3 linked regions of the Homo sapiens genome follow. The protein of the gene in region 3 purifies or fractionates together with the protein of the main gene of each other region. This does not show direct contact. Each region holds a gene or a part of one and is shown on either strand. Other genes may lie near its edges. The genes, in order: ATP6AP2, HK1 and WDR1.

The links.
Region 1: the proteins of WDR1 (region 3) and ATP6AP2 fractionate together in Homo sapiens (co-fractionation; one large-scale study listed by BioGRID). This does not show direct contact.
Region 2: the proteins of WDR1 (region 3) and HK1 fractionate together in Homo sapiens (co-fractionation; one large-scale study listed by BioGRID). This does not show direct contact.

What each region holds. Positions count from the first base shown.
Region 1 is NC_000023.11:40,601,377-40,605,031, reverse strand, and holds part of ATP6AP2 (renin receptor precursor), read right to left. Parts: intron 1-3,655. UniProt on the Homo sapiens protein: Multifunctional protein which functions as a renin, prorenin cellular receptor and is involved in the assembly of the lysosomal proton-transporting V-type ATPase (V-ATPase) and the acidification of the endo-lysosomal system.
Region 2 is NC_000010.11:69,395,347-69,399,001, reverse strand, and holds part of HK1 (hexokinase-1), read right to left. Parts: intron 408-3,655; coding exon 174-407; intron 1-173. UniProt on the Homo sapiens protein: Catalyzes the phosphorylation of various hexoses, such as D-glucose, D-glucosamine, D-fructose, D-mannose and 2-deoxy-D-glucose, to hexose 6-phosphate (D-glucose 6-phosphate, D-glucosamine 6-phosphate, D-fructose 6-phosphate, D-mannose 6-phosphate and 2-deoxy-D-glucose 6-phosphate, respectively).
Region 3 is NC_000004.12:10,076,319-10,078,953, forward strand, and holds part of WDR1 (WD repeat-containing protein 1), read right to left. Parts: coding exon 2,573-2,635; intron 2,375-2,572; exon of another isoform or gene 2,293-2,374; intron 1,609-2,292; coding exon 1,435-1,608; intron 1,131-1,434; coding exon 986-1,130; intron 1-985.

The sequences.
Region 1 (3,655 bases), on a different chromosome or scaffold from region 3:
AACCCAGCAGGTGGAGGTTGCAGTGAGCCAAGACTGTGCCATTGCACTCCAGCCTGAGCAACAAGAGCAAAACTCCGTCTCAAAAAAAAAAAAAAAAAAATCATCAACAGAATGGAATTGTGGTATATCCCTACAAGCAGAATATGTAACAGTAAAATGACTAAACTACAGCTACATTTGTCAGCCTGAGTGAATCTTAAAAAGAATACTGAACAAAGAACACAGAAAAATACATGTAGTATGATTCAATTTATATAAAATTCAAATACAGGCAAAACCAAACAACACTGTTTAAGAACAAATACATATGCAGTCAATCTGTAAAGAAAAGCAAGGGATTAACATGATATCCAGGACAGCAGTTACCTCTGGATGAGGGAGGGTAGAGGGAGAAAATAGGGAGCTTCAAAGAAGCAAGCATTCTCTTAAGCTATTGATATGGTTTGGCTCTGTGTCCCCACCCAAATCTCATCTCGATTTGTAATCCCCACGTGTCGAGAGAGGGACCTGGTGGGAGGTGATTGGATCATGGGGGCAGTTTCCCCCATACTGTTCTCATGATACTGAGTTCTCATGAGCTCTGATGGTTTAAAAGTGTGCCACTTTCTCTCTCTTTTGCCACCTTGTGAAGAAGGTGCCTGCCTCCCCTTCCCCTTCCTCCATGATTGTAAGTTTCCTAAGGCCTCCCCAGCCATGTGGAACTGTGAATCAATCAAACCTGTTTCCTTTATAAATTACCCAGTGTCAGGTAGCTCTTTATAGCCATATGAAAACGGAGCTATACAGTGTTATTATTTTTATTATTTAAATAACTAGTATTAAATATGTTATATACTTATGTATGTATGATCCACTTAACACTTTTTTTTAAAATACAGAGCTGTGTAAAAACATTGTTTGGGAAACTGAATTCATTCTGACAAAGGCACTGTTTGGGAAATATCATTCATTCTGGCTAGAGAATTTTAAAAGTAGGAACACAGCAGGAGATGAAGCTAGAAGCAGGGAAGCTACAGAAAATCTGACATGAGCCTCTGGGCAATAAGGAGCCATTGACAAGCTTTAGGCAGAAAGTGAGTGACATGATCAGGTTTGTCTTAAAAAGATAACATTAAAATTAAAAATTAGCTGAGTGTGGTGGCTCAAGCCTATAGAACTGGCTACTCAGGAGGCTCAGACAGGTGGATCACCTGAGCCCAGGAGTTTGAGGCTACAGTGAGCTATGATTGCGCCACTGCACTCCGGCCTGGGACAGGGCGAGACCCTGTCTCAAAAAAAGAAAAGAAAAAAGATAACTTTGATGACAATGTGTAGGATGGATTTGGGAGGAGCCAGCTGGGAAGCAGAGAGACAGATGAGTTCAGACAAGTTAGGAGGCGGCAGTCAAATGAGGTGGGAGAAATGGGGGCAGGGTGCCTGGCAGTGAGGATGAGAACGAAAATGTAACCGAGATCTATTTGTCCCTACAGCCCCAGCACCTGGAATGTTGTGAGTACTCAGTAAATGTTCCTTAAACTCCTGTCTCCTTAAACTAATGGAAGAGAGTGATTTCAAATGTAGGAGAGAATGGGTACACAGGCATGCATATTTACCTGCGGGGAGCTCAGAGCTGAGGCAAACGTTAAAGGATTTCACGCCCATGAAGACCTCTTTGTTTCTTTCCTTTTTTTTTTTTTGATAAACATGTTCTTTTTCCTACCCATTTTAAGTGTACAAGTCAAGGAATTTTAGTGGTTTCATAGTTATCACCACAATCTAATTCTAGAACATTTCTATCACCCTAAAAAGAAATCTCATAGGCCGGGCATGGTAGCTTACACCTGTAATCCCAGCACTTTGGGAGGCTGAGGTGAGCAAATCACTTGAGGCCAGGAGTTCAAGACCAGCCTGGCCAACATGGTAAAACCCCATCTCTACTAAAAGTACAAAAATTAGCCGGGTGTGGTGGTGCATGCCTGTGATTCCAGCTACTCAGGAGGCTGAGGCAGGAGAATCACTTGAATCTGGGAGGTGGAGGCTGCAGTGAGTTGAGATTGTGCCACTGCACTCCAGTCTGGGTGACAGAGTAAGATCCTATCTCCAAAAAATCCAAAAAAAAAAAAAAAAAAAAAAAAAAAAGAATTCTCTGGGAGGCATCCCCACTCTCAACACATGTGCTGACCACCCAGAGCCCAGGTGCCTTTCTGTTTCCCTGTGCTGGTGGGCAAAAATTTCCAGTCTACCCTCTCACTGAGGGCACAGCTCTCTCGGGGTCCCCAGCTTTATCTGGAGTTGTCCATTCCCATCCCCCACACACAAGGCACCAAAGGACTCTTGGTGACCCAGCTGGCAAATATCCTTAGGGCGGCCTGCTTACCACATTCGGTTTTTTTTTTTTTTTTTGAGATGGAGTCTCACTGTGTCACCCAGGCTGGAGTACAGTGGCACAATCTCAGCTCACTGCAACCTCCGCCTCCCGGGTTCAAGCGATTTGTCTGCCTCAGACTCCTAAGTAGCTGGGACTACAGGCGTGCGCCACCACGCCCGGCTGATTTTTTGTGTTTTTAGTAGAGACGGAGTTTCACCATGTTGGCCAGGCTGGTCTCGAACTCCTAACCTTGTGATCCACCCACCTCGGCCTCCCAAAGTGCTGGGATTACAGGTGTGAGCCACCGCACCCGGCCTCCTCTTCTTTATTTACTCTGTAAGAGAATTTCCCTTTCTTGCGAGCTGAACTATGTATTTTTATTTTTGTAATTTTTTTTTTATTTGAGACGGAGTCTTGCTGTGTCTCCCAGGCTAGAGTGCAGTGGTGCAATCTTGGCTCACTGCAACCTCTGCCTCCCGGGTACAAGCAATTCTCCTGCCTCAGCCTTCCAAGTAGCTGGGATTACAGGTGCCCGCTACCACACCAGGCTAATTTTTGTATTTTTAGTAGAGACGGGGTTTCACCATGTTGCCCAGGCTGGTCTAGAACTCCTGGCCTCAGGTGTTCCGCCCGCCTCAACCTCCCAAAGTGCTGGGATTACAGGCGTGAGCCACCACACCCAGCCCAAACTATGTACTTTTTAAAAGATCTTTATTTTTATCTAGCATTTCTAGACGTTTTATGGTGGGAAATCTTGGGTGGTTGTCTAGACTGACATGCTGTCTGAAACAAAGGTCCTTCCATCCCCAATTTAATTTAGAAAGAAACAATCTCAAACCAGTAATCGCTAGACTATCTCAAACAGGCACTGGCTTCGACCTTCCGACTCCAAGTCCCACACTGACTTCAGTAAAACTGAGCAGGGTGAGGGCTGCAAATGGGTCTGAAGCGGAGGTGTATGTAATTGAGTGGATATCTATCTGCTGCAAGTGATACAGCCAGCCCTAAGCAATGTTCTCAGACGTAGGATGTTAGGGAGCATCTACACTACTCTTTCCCATCACCCTCCCTAGGTTCTGCTGCAGCTGTAAGTATATATGTATGTATGTAAATGTGCACGTACATACACATAAACAGATATGTATTTTACCATGGCCAGCAACCATGGTAATGCTTAACCCTGACCCTCTAAATGCTTAAAATCAAAGCAAGATCCATACCCAAAAAAACTGTTAAGTAAATCAAAATCATAAAGAGGTGCACACAGAGGATCTCAGTAAGTGAGGGACTACGCCACAAAGACAATGT
Region 2 (3,655 bases), on a different chromosome or scaffold from region 3:
CCTACAAACTGTTCATTACCTTGTCCTAGACAATCCCCAGCTCCTGAACGCACAGCCTTCAGCCTGGCTGGGCTCCCGCAGGGCATTTCCCCAGCGTAAACCACACCCTGATACCCCCTAACCCAAAGGGATCCCAGCAAGCTCTGCGCATCCCAACTGGAAGGCCCACTCACTGTGGATGAAGCTTGTAGAGTGTCCCGTCCACTCCCACAGTCACATTCAGACGGTCCAGTCCTCTGTTCTCGCGGATCTTATCCACAACCGCAGCCATGCCTGCGCCACACAGCTGTGCGGCCCTCCTGGACACCACCCCGCACACTGTCTTGACGAGGATACTGTCATCGCAGGTGCTATTCAGACCTAGCTGCTGGAGGATAGCCCGGACCTGGAGCAGTGCTAATCGGTCACTGTGGGGGACAAGAGCCAGAGGGCTGGATGAAGCAGGACCCACAAGAGCAGCCTGGAGACCACGTCCAAAGGACGCCCCCCGCCCCCAATCACTGTACTCATCCACAGACAGAGTCAAGGGCAAGTGTTACATGTTAAACTGTGGAGAATTTGGCAAATCTAGCAAAATAAAAATTGGAAAATCTAAACCATTCACTATCTCAACATCTAGGAAAATGCTATTAACATTTTAATATATTTCCTTCCAGTTTATTTTTCCTAGCTGGTATGCTTCTCATGATATGCAAAATGGGATTATCCTTGATATGTGATTTTCTTTCTCTTTCCTGTTTCATGCATTGAGCAATTTCCCACAGCCTTATCTGAGAACAGGATTGGAAACAGCTGCTGCAGTATTCCCTCTAGGGATGCACCATGATTTCTTTAGCCAGCTTGGAGAAATTCAAGTTAATTGCAATTTTCTGCTATTATAAAGAAACATTTTGATAAGGTTTGTTTATAAATCTTTGTGTGCAATTCTGATGTTTTTCCTTAGGATAAATTTCTGGGTCAACGAGCTTTTGCTACACATTGCCAGATGCCTTACAGAAAATTGTATCCATTTACTCTTCAGCAGAGTATTTGGCCACACTTATCCTCACTGGAAAAGAGCATTTTTTTACAACTTTTGACAGTTTTATAAGAAGGCATCACAAGACTGTAGTTCAATTTATATTATTCTCTATTAGTGAGGATGATCTCTTTTTTTTCCATTTGTTTTTTGGCCATATAAACTACTTCTTACGTCTCAAGACTTTTCTCCTGATATATTTGTCTTATTTATATTAAATTGAAAGAGACGATAACTGGGATGGTACAATGAAGACCAGCCAGGCTTCTTGGAGGACTTACCATGTAACATATATTTTACATACATTACCTTACTTACTCCTCAAACAACCAATGAATGTATGATTATTCCCATTTTAAAGATAAGGCAACTGAGGCTGGGAGAAATTGAGTATTGCAAAGCACACAGCCGGTGGAGAAGAGCAGGTGTAGACCAGACCTGCCAAAGCCCACCATGCCCTGCTAGGCGTCTTGTCATACACAGTACAAATGTCTTCCTCAGTTTACCGTTGCCTTTTAAGTTTGATTACTTTTTTTTTTTACTTACAGACACTATGTAGCTATATTTGGCCATTTTTCTTTATGATTTCTTTCTTTGCTATTATGCTTGAAAAGACTTTCCATACCACTTCATACCCATTAGGATGGCTATTCTCAACTCAGAAAATAACAAGTGTTGGCGAGGATGTGGAGAAACTAGAACTTTCACGGGCTGCTGGTGGGAATGTAAAATGTTACAGCCACTGTGGAAAACAACATGGTGGTTCCACAAACAACTGAACAGGGAATTACCATATGATCCCGCAAGTCCACTTGGGGTGCGTACACACACACACACAAACTGAAAGGAGATACTGGTCACCCGTGTTCACAGCAGCATTTGTCACAATATCCAAAAGGTGGAAGCAAGCCAAGTGTCCATGGATGGATGAATGAATAAACAAAATGCAGTGTGTGCATGCAATGGAATATCACTCAGCCTTAAAAATAAGGAAATTATGGCCGGGCGTGGTGGCTCATGCCTGTAATCCCAGCACTCTGGGAGGCCAAGGTGGGCAGATTACCTGAGGTCGGGAGTTTGAGACCACCCTGATCAACATGGGGAAACCCCATCTCTACTAAAAATACAAAATTAGCCGGGCGTGCATGGTGACGCACGCCTGTAATCCCAGCTACTCAGGAGGCTGAGGCAGGAGAATCGCTTGAACCCAGGAGGCAGAGGTTATGGCGAGCCAAGTTTGCACCATTGCACCCCAGCCTGGCCAACAAGAGTGAAACTCCGTCTCAAAAAATAAAAATAAAAAAATAAGGAAATTCTAACACATGCCACAATACGGATGAACCTTAAGACATTATGCTAAGTGAATTAAGCCAGTCACAAAGGACAAATGCTGTATGATTCTATTTATATGAAGTATCCAGAGTTGTCAAATCCATAGAGACAGAGAGTAGAATGGTGGTTGCTGGGGTGGGGGGAGGGAGGAATGTGGAGTTAGTGTTTGCTGCGTACAGAGTTTCAGCTGAGAAGATGAAAAGAGTTCCGGAAATGGATGGTGGTGATAGCTGTGCGACTATGTGAATGTACTTAATGTCACCGAACTGTATACTTAAAAACCATTTTGCCTGGGTAAGAGCAGTGTATAGGCTTGTTAGGTTTTTTTTTGTTTAAGGTTTAATATTTTTTTTCTTTTCTTTCTCTTTTTTTTTTTTTTTTGAGACAGAGTCTGTCTCTGTCGCCCAGGATGGAGTGCAGTGGTGCAACCTCAGCTCATTGCAACCTCCGCCACCGGGCTCAAGCCATCCTCCCACCTCAGCCTCCCAAATAGCTGGGACCACAGGAATGTGCCACCACGCCCGGCTAGTTTTTGCACTTTTTGTAGAAATGGGGTCTTGCCATGTTAACCAGGCTGGTCTCGAACACCTGAACTCAAGTGATTCACCTGCTTTGGCCTCCTAAAGTGTTGAGATTACAGGCATGAGCCACCGTGCCCAGCCTACACAGAGCCTACGTTAGGTTATTATGACCATTCTAAGAAGAACACAGTATTTGCACAATTGCTTTTGTTTTTTCTGACCCTTTTTTCCTCCTTCTCACACAGCGTGCCTTAGAAGACAGCAAAGGCCAGGAAGAAATGTACCCTGGACAGGAGAAAAGTAGAAAGAAGGTGGAACAACTTGCTGAGGGGCATCAGCTCCTGGGTGGCCTGGCACTGAACCCCAGGCTGCCTTTCAGATAAATCCAGGTGGGCCCTATGCACCCCCAATACAAGTATGTGTAGTGCATCTTTACCATCTGAAATGGAATCCATATGGCCCTCTTACACACATAATTTCAAATAAATCAATATAATGCCCCAACATAAAGGATGGATAAAAGGAAAGTAAGTAATTTACTTATTTATTGAGATGCAGTCTCGCTCTGTTGCCAGGCCAGGCTGGAGTGCAGTGGCGCGATCTCAGCTCACTGCAACCTCCACCTCCTGGGTTCAAGTGAGTCTCCTGCCTCAGCCTCCCAAGTAGCTGGGATTACAGGCATATGCCACCACACCCAGCTAATTTTTTGTATTTTTAGTAGAGATCGGGTTTCACCATGTTAGCCAGGATGGTCTCAAATCTCCTGACCTCATGATCCGCCTGC
Region 3 (2,635 bases):
TCCACATCACCAGGCTGGCTCTTTTCCAGATGCAGAACTCAACTATCTGCACGAGAACCCGATGCTGAGGTCACTTCATGTTTGGTGGCCTGTGACCTCACAGTGAAGACACAGACCCCGACCTCCTAATCTCTATCTGACTAGCTCTTGCTGTATTTTTTTCTGGATCCATTTCATTCATGAACTTGTTTGATTCTCACTACCAGACTGGCGATTGCCTTATAAACCAGGACGGACGTTGAAACCTGCTTTGTCTCTCCTCCCTTCCAGACCGGGCTGCCTTCCCTCTTTGCCTGTCCTGCACCTGAAGCCTGCAGCTGGGGAATGGGCTCTGGGGGTGGGCTCAGACATTTTTAAATAGGAAAGGGCCCCATTAATGTTTAACACAAAAGGATGTCTTCAAGGAGAATGGATGAGGGGACTTGACTACACACTAGGAGGAGAGTGGTAGGGGGGCACTCGGGGAGGGGAGGGTTTGGACAACACAGAGCTGCCTTACAATACGTGCATGGCCACGCGGGGACATCACAACCCCCTCAGGGAGAAATGATGACATGCGGGGCTAAATAAAACCTACTGTTACAAATCATTTCACCTGTTTCTTTTTTAAATGTGGCTACCAGGAAATTTCAACGCCACATGAGGCTCACATTATACACTGGACGTGGCTGTCTTAGGGAGGGGGAGACCCTGGTCCCAGGTGGGATTTAAGGGGTGAGTGGGGGAAGTGAAGATGTCAAAAGTGAGGCCTTCACTCAGCTCAGCAGGTGTCCTGTGCATGGGGCCCCCGTGGTCCCTCAGTACGGCCAGCAGCGCAGCTGGTGTTTGCTGGATGGAAGGAGACCCACAACTCTTCCGGGCCACCTGTCTAGAAGCACAGAGGCTACTTAGCCCTGGGGACTGAAGCCAGGGGACAGCCTGTGAGGTGGCCCATGGAGCCCCGAACCATGGGTGGTCCCTGCCAAGGCCTGGGGGCGGAAGTCACCTTGGATCTTGACTCTGGTTTCCGGGTCACTCAGGGTCCAAACATACACCATCATGTCCATGCCACCGGAGGCAAAGTGTTCATTGTCTGGGGACCAGGCCAGGCAGACGATTTTTGCATGGTGTCCATAAAAAACATTGTTCTCCTAGTTGCAGGTTGAAAACAAGAGAGGTGGCAGGTCAGGTTCAGGCCGCAGTTGCCCATATCACCTCGCTTATCCCTCATGGCGACAATAAGGACCGAGGTTTCTCACGCGCTAACTCTATGCCAGCGACCCCTGCAAACCCACTGACTCCTCAGAAGCATGGCACGAGGCACCTGCTACTTGTAGAGGCAAGAAAACTACAGCTCAGACAGGCTCAGCTCAAGGTCACCAAGTCACAGATAACCTCCCACTGCCACCTGCACCGCCCAGCACGGGGACAGAGGAGGAGCCCGCCGCCACTCACCGAGTAGCCGTCAGCAACGCTGAACACTGTGACCACCTTGCTGGCGTCGCACACCGCGAGGAAGGCGCCGTCGTGGGAGTAGGCCACGTCGGTCACGGGGCCCTTGGCCTCTAGGAGCTTGCCCTCATCCTTCAGCGTGGTGCCCAGGATGGAATACAGGCGGACGTTGCCGTCCTACGGCAGGGACAGAGAGGAAGTGAGCCACCCCTGAACACACACACCACACCCATCCTTTGTGAAGGGGGGGTCGAGGGCTTAAGAAACTGTGCCGTTCCCACTGACTGCTGCTCTGCTGGGCCCATGCCAGGAGCTGGGCATGGCTCTTCCCGTGGATGGGCCTGAAACCTACGCAGCTCTATGAAAACAGCTGTTGGTACCTCGGGGCACCGCTGGTCTCATGAGGCCCTCAAGCTGGCTGGTGGAGGAAGCCACTCCATGCCCTGGTCACATCCGGCACCTGAAGGACCTGGCAGCACATAGACCCACCCAGCCCCTAGCATGGAGGGCACTGCCACGCCTGCTGCAGGACTGGGTTATCAGAGGGCTGCCCTCCTGGGCTGGAGAGGGGAAATGAGCTCTTCTACAGAGCACTCAGGACTTGGCCAGGCACACTGTGACCAGACCACACACACAAATTCAAGGGCATGAGAATTATGCCGAGGCAGAACTCAAGGGAAACTGTAAAATGTCTGGTTAGTACCGCACCTTGAAGATGCTGGGAAACTTCTGTCACTCTTCCTTCAACCTGTGAGCCGAGCCCAGCCCCAGGGGATGCCATTCCTTGATTTCCTGACCTGCTACCCTCTTGCGCTCCCCTCCTGCCGCCACTCATGGGGCTGGCTCTGAGGCACAGCTGTGCCCTCCTCGGCACTCCCTCTACCTCACTGTCCACAGTCTTGTGGGCACCCGGGCAGTGAGGTGGGGGAAGTGCCGAGGAGGGGAGGGGAAGGCTCCAGCCCTGGGTGGCAGGAGATGGCGTGGCTGGGCCCCAGAGCAGGTCCCACGCCCCGACTGCCCCCATCCTTCCCCTGACCCCTCGCCTTCCCTGAGACAGCCCCGGTACTCACACAGCTCACACTGTCCCCAAATCACCCAGATACCAAGGACAGAGAGCACGGGGGAGAGGAAAGCGACTTACCACACCCCCAATTGCCACCGTGTCCCCGCCGGGGTGCACTGCCACAACTTCGGGCTCGTAGCC